2 separate regions of the Homo sapiens genome follow, and region 2 is linked to region 1. Evidence: fine-mapped expression QTL. A gene starts in region 1. The other region holds a variant in brackets. All regions are shown on one strand. Distances are from middle to middle.

Evidence for each region.
Region 2: its variant is fine-mapped to the expression of RASD1 in whole blood (TOPMed, PIP 0.98).

What each region holds. Positions count from the first base shown.
Region 1 is chr17:17,492,987-17,498,352 of GRCh38, forward strand. It overlaps RASD1 (ras related dexamethasone induced 1), which reads right to left and starts at 3,409. Exons shown (of 2, transcript NM_016084.5): 1 at 2,910-3,409; 2 at 1,451-2,698. The coding sequence starts at 3,195. The coding sequence ends at 2,139. MED9 (mediator complex subunit 9) reads left to right here. Exons shown (of 2, transcript NM_018019.3): 2 at 1-235. RefSeq lists silencers at 3,340-3,559, 3,720-3,849, 3,900-4,129.
Region 2 is chr17:17,638,382-17,643,747 of GRCh38, forward strand. No RefSeq gene overlaps it. Among named protein-coding and RNA genes, the nearest start is that of SMCR2, 37 kb to the right of the region's middle. The variant C/T (reference allele first, on the strand shown) is at 3,009.

The sequences.
Region 1 (5,366 bases):
TTTCCTTGAAATTTCACAGTAGTGGGTGGGCCTGTTTTAAGGCTCTGACAGATACCACGAAACATGAAGCACGTGGAACTACAAGACCCCCGGGGTCTTTCTGAGTGCAAGGCTGAAATGGACAAGGGCTCCTCACGGGGGTGGAGGGAGCCGGAGCCTGCCTTGTGTTCCTTTTTTGACTTGTGACATTTTTCAAACACATAATTAAAAGGACTTATGCTCTGCTGTCTCAGGACATAATGCTTTTTGTACTGAGAAATTCATAGTGGGATGGCTCTCAGATAGTTGAGAGGAAAATGTTTCTCTCAGTCTCTTCAGACACAACCACACCTCTGCTCCTCACTCCCTCCGCCCCAGCACACACACCCGCCCCAGCACACACACCCGCTGAACCAGTGTGGAACAGGAACTCCTCTCCCGGCTGGCCTCAAGGGCAGTTTGCCTGGCGGGTCATCCCTGGGCTGTCCTTAGTTGCCTTTTATTTTTGGAGGGGGGAGGTGGGGGGTGCCTTTTGGTGACTCGAGGAGGTTCAGTCCTGTGGGGAGCCGCCCTCACCAGAGCAGGGTTGAAATCCTTCTAGGACAATTTTGAGTGTCTCTCACAGGGCTGAGCGTCCTCTGAAAGCCACCAATTACTTGGATTACTGGGTGGCCGGCATTTATGCTAAGTACTTTTCAAACATCACACTTAATCCCCACAGTGAGCCCATGCCGAGGGTGTTCTCTCTTCCCGGGGTGAAGAATTAGAGGCTTGGCAGGTGTCACCCACCAACAGGTTTGCAGTACTAGTGGCAGAGAGATTGGTGTTCTGGGGTGCCTTAGCCATGAGACGGAGACAGCAAGGCTGAAGGGGGATGGGGCTCTACACCTGGCCAGGAGCACTTCCTGGAGCTAGAGGGGAGCAGAGGCTGAGGAGTTAGCTGTTTCCAGACAGGGTGGCACCCTGGAGTGAGCGGGTGGTGGGGGCGCGCCAGGATGGTCCTGTTTCCAGATGGGGTCTCAGGCTCTTTCCCCAGGGCCTGACTGATGCCTCCAACAGTCCGAAAGTTTGCCTGGGCCCACACTGAGTCTGGTGACAAAATGGTTAGGCACAGTTCCAGTGGCTTTTACGCTGAAGAATTCAGAACATTCTCTCAGAAAATGAGGCCTTTTGTCATCTAACCCAAAGAAAATTAAGCGGGTGGATGGCTAGAAAGAGTTCATCTCCAGGGGGGACCCTGAAATCCTTTATATTCTTCCCGGTTTTCTAGGGAACCATCCCCTACATAGATGCCCCAGGCATCTGGGGCTTTTCTGGCAGCTGAAGCTGCCTTCAGAAGGCCAGGGTTATTTTCCAGTTCTGGGGAAGGTAAGTTCTAGTTCCACCTAAGTCAAAGCCCAGCCCTTTCCTTCTCCCCACCCTTCCCCACTCCAGCCATCTCTAAAAGCAAAAAAAAAAAAAAAAAAACCGGTTTTCCATTTTAAATTATTTTATTGTATATTAAAAAACCAAATAAAGCAATAACTTTAAAGACCTCAGACACACACAGTATAAACACCTGGGTAAGGTTTTGTTCGTGTCCATGTTGACACCGGAACTACCGTTAAAGTGCAAGTTTTGTTTTGTGTTCCTTTGTGCAGTTTCACTCACATGTAAACAAGTCACTTGGCTATGATTTGACCCACGCCCCCCCGCTTAGTTTTGGGAGGGCAGAGGCTCTACCGGCTGTCACAGCAACCCGGAATCACAGACAAGATAATGCCCCGTGGGTCCTGACCCTCAAGCGGGCATGACGGTTTCTTGAAGCCTAGCAGAGGCTGGATAACTTCACATCCCTCCCCCACCCCGCGCTCACTCTTAGGTCTTTGAGAAGATAAATCCACCCTCGGCTGGGCCCTCGCTCCCAAAGTTATGGGGGTGGCGGGCCTCAATGGGGGACCGGGGGTGGGGAATAGTCCCAGTCTTGGCCCGTTCTCTTTCCTTCCGGAGCAGATGACCGTCCCTTCTCGGTTCAGTGGCGCCTCCCCAGTGCTGGGGGCGGATCGCCGGGAGGGGAGACGCCAGTCCGCGCGCGCTCCCGGCCTGGGGCGCACCGGGCCGTTGGATTTGACTTAACAAAAAGGTCCTCCTTAGGTTGTGTCGCCAGCGCGGCGGGGCTCCTAGCTGATGACGCAGCGCTCCTTGTCCTTGGCCTGGCTGCCGGCGCTGGCCTTCTCGCGGATGTACATGAGGTCGCTGTGTACGCTGGGCCGGCGCGCGAAGGGTGCCACGATGCCAAAGGCGTCGCCCGGGTCGCCGCCGCCGCCGCCGCTGCCGGCCCGCAGCAGCTTCTTGTTCCGCAGCGCCTTCTTGTGCAGCACGTCGCAGTACTGCACCGAGACCTTGCGGTGCAGGTCTGGGCTCATCTCGCTGGGCAGCTTGGCCATGGCGAAGAGCGCGCGGAACATCTGGTCCAGGCTGCTGTTCTTCTTGGCCGAGATCTCGAAGTAGGCGCAGCGCTGGGGGTCGTCGCCCACCAGCTGCTCGATCTCGCGCTGGTCCACCTCGCGGTAGAAGTCGCGGTCACCCTTGTTGCCGCAGATGACCAGGGGCACGTCCACGTTCTCCTTGGTTTTGTTCTTGAGGCAAGACTTGGTGTCGAGGATCTGCTGCCTGAGCCGCTGCACCTCCTCGAAGGAGTCGCGGTTGTCCAGACTGAACACCAGGATGAAAACGTCTCCTAGAGGGGGCACAGAGAGCAGAAAAGGAGAAGGTGAGGGTGGCCGCCCAGGGGACAAGTCGGGCTGACTTTGAGGCCGCGCGGGGCGCGCTAGCCTCTCTAAGCGCGAAGCGCACTACTCGGCGCGCGGCAGCCGGACCGGCGCTCGCGGGGCGCCCTGGCCGAGGGTTCCCCGCCCTTCCCTCCCGCACCTGCCCGGCCCCCGGCTCACCTGTGAGGATGGAGAGGCGCCGCATGGCGGGGAACGGGTGGTTGCCGGACGTGTCGAGGATGTCGAGCTGGTAGACCTCGCCGCGGATGGAGTAGAACTTGCGGTGGAAGTCCTCGATGGTAGGCGTGTAGGCGTCCTCGAAGCGGCCGGTGAGGAAGCGCGACACGATGGCCGTCTTGCCCACCTTGGACGAGCCGAGGATGACCATGCGATAGCAGTTCTTGGCCGGGATACTCAGCTCCGAGTCGCTCGGGCACATCTTCTTGATCATCGCGGCCAGTTTCATTGGGCAGAGGGGCCGCGAGGGCGGGCGCGGGGCCGAGAGAAGGGCAGAGAGCGGCTGAGGGTCGCTGGGGTGGCACGCGGGGTGAGCGGCTGGAGGGCTCTGCTCGGGCTGGGCGCGGCTCGGGCTTGGGGCTCCGGCTCCGCTCGGGCTGGGCTCGGGCTAGGCTGGGCTCGGCTGGGGTTCTCCCAGGATCTGGGCACAGGCCGCTTGCTCTGGCTTTGGCGCCCGGCCGCCGCCCTTATATGCAGCCTGCTCGGCTGCCCCGCCCCGGCCCTCCCAGCTCGGTGCGTCACGCCCCGCGGGGCCCGCCTCCCCCGCACCGGCTCCCAGTCCCGGCGACCTCGTCACCCGCTGCCGGGCTCCTGCTCTCTGGGCGCGGGGGCTGGGGGGAGCAGTCCAGGGTCGGGCTGAGGCTGGAGGCGCTCGGACTCCGCTTTTCCACTGCCGCGGGCTCGGCGGCCGCAGGGGCGTCGGGGTTCTGGTCCCGGCGGTGCCCCTGTCCCTCTGCGACTTCGGGCAAGGACCCCCATTCCTGCACCTCCCGCGCGCGTACACTTATTTTCTTTGGTTCTCAGTTTCCCCAGAGAATAGGAATCTAGTAAGTAACCCAGTAAGCGCAGCAGCGTTTGCTGAGTGCTTGCGCGGACCGTATATTGCAGTCCTCAGAGCACAGCCCCAGCCCCAGCCCCCTTCCGCTCCGGTCCCCAGCCGGGCTCTTGTTCCCGGGAGGCGACCGCCGGGCGGACGCGGGGTTTCAGGGCCTCAGGCGCGGAGCTCGGCACCGCGCGCTCGGGCCGCCAGAGGGCAGCAGAGGGCCCGGCCGGCGGCTCGGGGAGGCTGTGGCCGCCGCGGGCAGAGCTAGAACAGAGGCTAGGAGCAGGCGGGTGGGGAGCGGCAGGGATGGAGCAGGGGTCTCAGGGCGCCTTGCTGGGGCCCAACAGGAGCGGTCCCCAACCCCGCGCTCTGCTGCAGGCCTCAGCCTGCTCCTTTCTCCCAGCCAGAGATGCTCTGTGGTATGGAGGGCTCTGCAGCCAGCGGCCCACCCCGTCCATCATAGCATTTTGGGCTTTTACTGTGCCGCGCGTGGGCCGACGTTCTCATTGTCTAGCTGAGAGACCTGGAGCTCAAAGCCACAGCGAGCCAGGAAGGCCCTGGGAGCACAGCACAGCCTCTTGCTTTCTCCTGGGCCTCAGTTTTCTCTTCTGGAAGATACTGATTCTGGTTCTGTGATTAAGGATGAAAATATGCAAATGCTTTAGGAGGGCGGGGCCTGGTAATAACAATAGCAACAATAACAGTAGTATTGACCCATGAGGCCTGGTGGGGGTACTCTCAAGAGCACACCAGGTCGATCAGTAACCAGGAGTGGGGTGATGTTGCTGAACATTGGCAACAGGCTGTCTGGAGCCAGCTCCTCAGCCCTGAGCTCTTGAGGCAGTCACTGCTCCTCAAGGCAACCTGTGTGCTCAGTGTTTTGCTTTGGCCACGTCTGACTTACGAGAAAACTAGGGAGCCATTAGCTGGCACCACCGGCCCAGCTGTCAGGTGGTGGTCTGCAGGCAGTGCTGTGAGTGCCATACCACCCACCCCATGCCTACCCACCTCCCTCCCACGCTGGCACTTGCTGTAGGGGCTGCTGCAGGACACCACTAACTTGTTTCTCAGCCCAGCTTGGCCCCCATCCTCAGAGTCCCTGCATCTCTCCCAGGCCTCACTCTTACTGTCAGATATTTCAAATGCACGCATCACACAGTGAGCATCCAAGGGCTCATCAGTGGCCCTGGCCTGGCTCTGATTCCTGGTGTCACTTATGCAGCAGTTATCCGACAGGCTAGCTGGGGCTGGAGCCCCGCCATTCTTGGTTCCTGCCCCCATCTGAGGTATGTCTGCCAGAGTCTGGGAGAAGGGGAGAAGGAACTGAGTCGCAGCCCTGGATATAGGGCTGCAGTGGTGCAGGGTGTTCACTGCATAAAGGAGCCAGTTGAGGGTACATGGGGGGGCTCAGTTAAGGTACGGACCTGAACCACCTTCAGACTGAGCACCGCCTTCCTGTGCCTCCCACAGCGGCACTGCATGGGCAGCCGGGCTCTAACTTGGGATGACTGATGGCCAGGGCTATAGTGAAGGTGGACCCCACACAGCCATTGCCTCCTGGGGCTCTAGTCCCAAGA
Region 2 (5,366 bases), 150 kb after region 1:
TGAATCGTACCTTCAGTCTCACCCATATCTCATTCAGATGAGACTCTGGACTGCAGACTTTTGAGTTGATGCTGGAGCAGGTTAAGACTTTGGGGCTTTGGGGATGGAATGAGTACATTTTGCATGTGAGGACATGCATTTTGGGGCCCAGGGCAGACTACTGTGTTTTGAATGTGTCTCCTAAATTTCATGTGTGGGAGACTTAATCCCCAAATTCATATGTTGATTGGAGGTGGTGCCTTTGGGAGGTAGTTGGGATTAGATGAGGTCATTGGGGCAGGGCCCCCAGGAAGGGACTGATGACTTTCTAAGAAGAGGAAGAGGCTGGGTGAGGTGGCTCATGCCTGTAATCCCAGCACTTTGGGAGACTGAGTGGGTGGATAGCTTGAGCCCAGGTTTTTAAGACCAGCCTGGGCAATGCAGTGAAACTTCATCTCTATAAAAAATACAAAAATTAGCTGGGTGTGGTGATTTCGTCCACACGTACTGCAGTCCCAGCTACTCGGGAGGCATGAGGTGAGAGGATTCCCTGAGCCTGGGGAGGTGGAGGCTACAGTGAGCCGTGATCACATTGCTGCCCTCCAGCCTGAGCAATGGAGTGAGTCCTGTCTCCAACAAATTGTTTAAAAAAGGAGAGGACGAAAGACCTGAGCTGACAGCTTCTGCTCTCTCCCATGTGAAGCCCTGTGCCATGGAATGATGCCATGAGAAGTCCCACACCAGATGCCAGTGTGATGCGCTTGGACTCCCTAGCCTCCAGAACCATAAGCATATAAACCTCTATTGTTTATAAATGACCCAGTTTGTTTTATAGAAACAAAAAACTGAGACAGTTTTCTTACATGGCAAAAAGCGGGGTGGGTCTATCAGGTGTGACTGAGGATTCTGAGATGAGGAGATTGTCCTGGGGTATCGGGGTGGGCCCTGAATGCCATCACTAGTGTCTTTATAAGAATGGGGAAGCAGGCCATGGGTGGTGGCTCACGCCTGTAATCCCAGCACTTTGGGAGGCTGAGGTGGGAGGATCACCTGAGGTCAGGAGTTCAAGACCAGCCTGGCCAACATGATGAAACCCTGTCTCTACTAAAAATGCAAAAAATTGGCCGGGCACGGTGGCTCACGCCTGTAATCCCAGCACTTTGGGAGGCCAAGGCGGGTGGATCACAAGGTCAGGAGCTTGAGACCAGCCTGGCCAATATGGTGAAACCCCATCTCTACTAAAAATACAAAAATTAGCCAGGCGTGGTGGTACACACCTGTAGTCCCAGCTACTCGGGAGGCTGAGGCAGGAGAATTGCTTGAACTCAAGTGGCAGAGGTTGCAGTGAGCTGAGATGGCGCCACTGCACTCCAGCCTGGGCAACAGAGTGAGACTTCATCTCAAAAAAAAAAAAAAAAAATTAGCCGGGTGTGGTGGCACGTGCCTGTGGTCCCAGCCACTGGGGAGGGTGAGGCAGGAGAATCGCTTGAACACAGGAAGCAGAAGTTGCAGTGAGCTGAGATTGCACCACTGCACTCCAGCCTGGGTGACAAGAGTGGAACTCCATCTCAAAAAAAAAAAAAAAAAAAGAATGAGGAGGCAGAGTGATGACCACACACAGAAGAGAAGACAGGGTGCAGATGGAGTGGAGAGACCTCCAAAGATGCTGGCCTGGAAGACGGCAGTGATGTGGCCACAAGCCAAGGAAGGCCGGCAGCTGCCAGAAACTGGAGGAGGCGAGGAACAAGTCTGCCCTAGAGCCCTGCAGAGGGAGCACGGCCCTGCAGACACCTTGATTTCTGCACAGTGACACTGATTTCAGGCTTCTATCCTCCAGAACTGTGAGAGAGCAAATTTCTCTCACTTGTGGCAATTCATTACAGCAGGAAACAAACACACTCGCTAACCCTTTACTCCAATTTACCAGCGCCCTCCTCTGCTCCTGCTTATGGAGTGTATGTCATTCCCAGCTGGAATGCCAACTGAGGGCAGGGTTTTAAGAGCCTTGTTTTTCACTGCACCCTAGGGCTCACAGCACCAAACACAGGTTGAATGCACAACGAATGAATGAATGGAGGAACCAGTATTTTTTCATTTTTCAAAAGTAATAATAACTTTTACATGAATGTGGGCTTAGGCATATGCTTAGAAAAAGTCCCAAGGGGGCCGGGTGCAGTGGCTCATGCCTGTAATCCCAGCACTTTGGGAGGCCAAGGCAGGCAGATAACGAGGTCAGGAGAGCAAGACCATCCTGGCTAACACGGTGAAACCCCGTCTCTACTAAAAATACAAAAAGTTAGCCAGGCGTGGTGGCGGGTGCCTGTAGTCCCAGTTACTCGGGAGGCTGAGGCAGGAGAATGGCGTGAACTCAGGAGGCAGAGCTTGCAGTGAGCCGAGATTGCACCACGGCACTCCAGCCTGGGCGACGGAGCGAGACTCCATCTCAAAAAACAAAAACAAAAAAACAAAAAAACAAACAAAAAAAAGTCCCAAGGGAATCTACACAAATTTCTACCAGCACTTAGCACCAGGAATGAAACTACAGAAAGCTTCACATTCCACAGTGAACACTTTTGAGGGATTCAAGAACCTCTATTAATTGTTATCAAGAAACCAAATAAGAAAAGCAAACCATAAGGCCGGGTGAGGTGGCTCATCCCTGCAATCCCAGCACTTTGGAAGGCTGAGGCAGACAGATCACTTGAGCTCAGGAGTTCGAGACCAGCCTCGCCAACATGGCGAAACCCCAAAACCCCATCTCTACTGAAAATACAAAAAATTAGCCAGGCGTGGAGGTGAATGGCTGAGGCATGAGGATCACTCGAACCCAGGAGGCAGAGTGAGCTGAGTGAGCTCAGTGAGCTGAGATCGCACCACTGCACTCCATCCTGGGTGACAGAGCGGGACCCTGTCTCAAAAAAAAAAAAAAAAAAAAAGGCAAACCATGAAGAGGAGAGGAGCACCATTTTTTCCAAAAGGGTGATTCTCTATGGAGTTGGGGTCTGGAGAGCATCTGCTTGAATGGAAGT[C/T]GCCAACAGGAAGAAAGCCATGCTTTGCAGAGGCCTCACTAGCCTGGAGAGCCACCAGGGCCCTCAAGGGCAATCAAAGTTCCCATCATTGGACTAAGAGGGGCAGGAACGTCCACCTGTCTTTCCTCAGATAAGAGAAGGGGCTCTTGGAGACTTTGGGGGGCCATTTAGACGTTGAGAGCTTAGTTCCTACACCACAGTTCCTACACCACTGATGGCTGCTGCCATGTTTTATTGGCGACCTGCTCCGGGCCAGGCACGTGGATTGTTTTTAATCATCTCGGCAAAATCTCAAGGTGGGGCCAGTCTTTGATTTATGGAGGAGAAAACCGAGACTCTGAGAGGTGGTTTGCTCAATGTCACACAGCTGGAAGGTGGCAGAGGTGAGAGGGGCCTCTGGTCTGCACTGACCCTTCTCATGAGGCCACATATACCCACTACCATCTTAGCGCATGTCTCGGGGTCTGTAAGGATTTTCCACACTCGGGCAGTGCACCTTCTGGCCATTCCTGGGTCCTTGCAACACTGGTATCTCCCCAGTTCACCAGTCGTTTAAAAATGCTTAAGGGAGTTCAATTCTGCCCCAACACCAGGCAAACAGTGCCACCTGGCGGATGACAAGGACAGTACAGGAATTACCATGTGCCCTTGGGAAACTGTCCCCAGGCAGTTGTGATTCTAGGCCAAGGGCAGAGTTGTTTTCTTTGACTTCATAAGAGGGGCAGGAGAGGAGGCCCACTGTTACCACAGCTGAAAATCAGAGGGCTGGCCCTGTCTGGGTGCTTCTGACAGCGAACCCAGACTTTCTGGGTCCCCTCTATGGTATCCTGCCAAGAGATCATCCAGCTTGGGCTTAAATACGTCCAGGGTGGGGGTCTCACTCTCCATGTGTCTTCATCACAAAGTTCTTGCTATCTCCGTGTAACATCTACTCTTGGCTCTTGCTCTACTTCCACGAAGAGCTCATCAACCTTTCTGCCCTCTGACAGCCCTTTGGAGGATCCAGGGAGCTCCACTTTCTCCTCCAGACTAAGCAGCCTCCATCACTGCTCTCAGGACAGGAATCTGGCTCTTCTCCCTGAAGTCATGCTCCTCAGGTCTTCCTGGCTTGAGTGCTTGTGGTTGGGAAGTAGGATGGGAGGGGCAGAGACAGCTTCATTTTGCTGTATCCGATAGTGGAAGTGCTCTTCTCCCGACACCTGCCATGGCTGGAATCTTCTCACCATTCAGGTCTCAGCTCAAATATTACCTCCTTGGTAAGGCCTTCTCTGACCACCCTGGGCTCAAGTAGCCTCCCCAGGCCCACCCTCAGCCAAACCAATGGCACGTTTGCAGCCTGCCCCACCCCCACCCCCAACCTGGCCATGAGCTCCACAGGACAGGGATTTGTCTGTTGTGTTGGGTATTGAGTCCATGGCCGTGGAGCAGTGGCCAGCATCTGCTGGCTTGATCCTCACCGGGATGAAGAGCAAGGTAGGGCAGTGGCTCCACTGGGCTCCTCCAGAAGCAGAGCCTGGGATAAGGGCAAATAGTTAATTTGGGAGATATCCCCCTAAAATTCTTTTTTCTTTTCTTTTTTCTTTTCTTTTTTTTTTTTTAAGAGACAGAGTCTTCCTCTGTTATCCAGGCTGGAGTGTAATGACATGATCATAGCTCACTGCAGCCTTGAACTCCTGGGCTCAAGCGACATTCCTCAGCCTCCCAAGTAGCTGGGTCTACAGACGTGCACCACCGTGTCCACCTAATTTTTAAAATTATTTTTGGTAAAGACAAGGTCTTGCTTTATTGCCCAGGCTGGTCTCAAATTCCTGGGATCAAGAGATCCTGCTGCCTCAGCCACCCAAAACACTGAGAATTCAGGTATGAGCTACCATGCTTGGGTATCCCCCAAAATTCTAATGTTGAAGTCCTAACCCCCAGAACCTCAAGAGTGTAGTTGTCCCTTGATATCCACGAGGGATTTGTTCCAGGACCCTCACAGTAGATACCAAAAATCCAAGGATGCTCAAGTCCCGTGTATAAAATGGCATAGTGGCCAGGCGCAGTGGCTCACGCCTGTAATCCCAGCACTTTGGGAGGCCGAGGTGGGTGGATCACCTAAGGCCAGGACTTTGAGGCCAGCCTGGTCAACATGGTGAAACCCCGTCTCTACTAAAAATACAGAAATTAGCCGGGTGTAGTGGCACACACCTGTAATCCCAGCTACTCGGGAGGCTGAGGCAGGAGAAATGCTTGAACCTGGGAGGCAGCAGTTGCAGTGAGCCAAGATCGCACCATTGCACTCCAGCCTGGGCAACAAAAGCAAAGCGCCATCTCAAAGAAAATAAATAAATAAATAAATAAAATGACATAGTATTT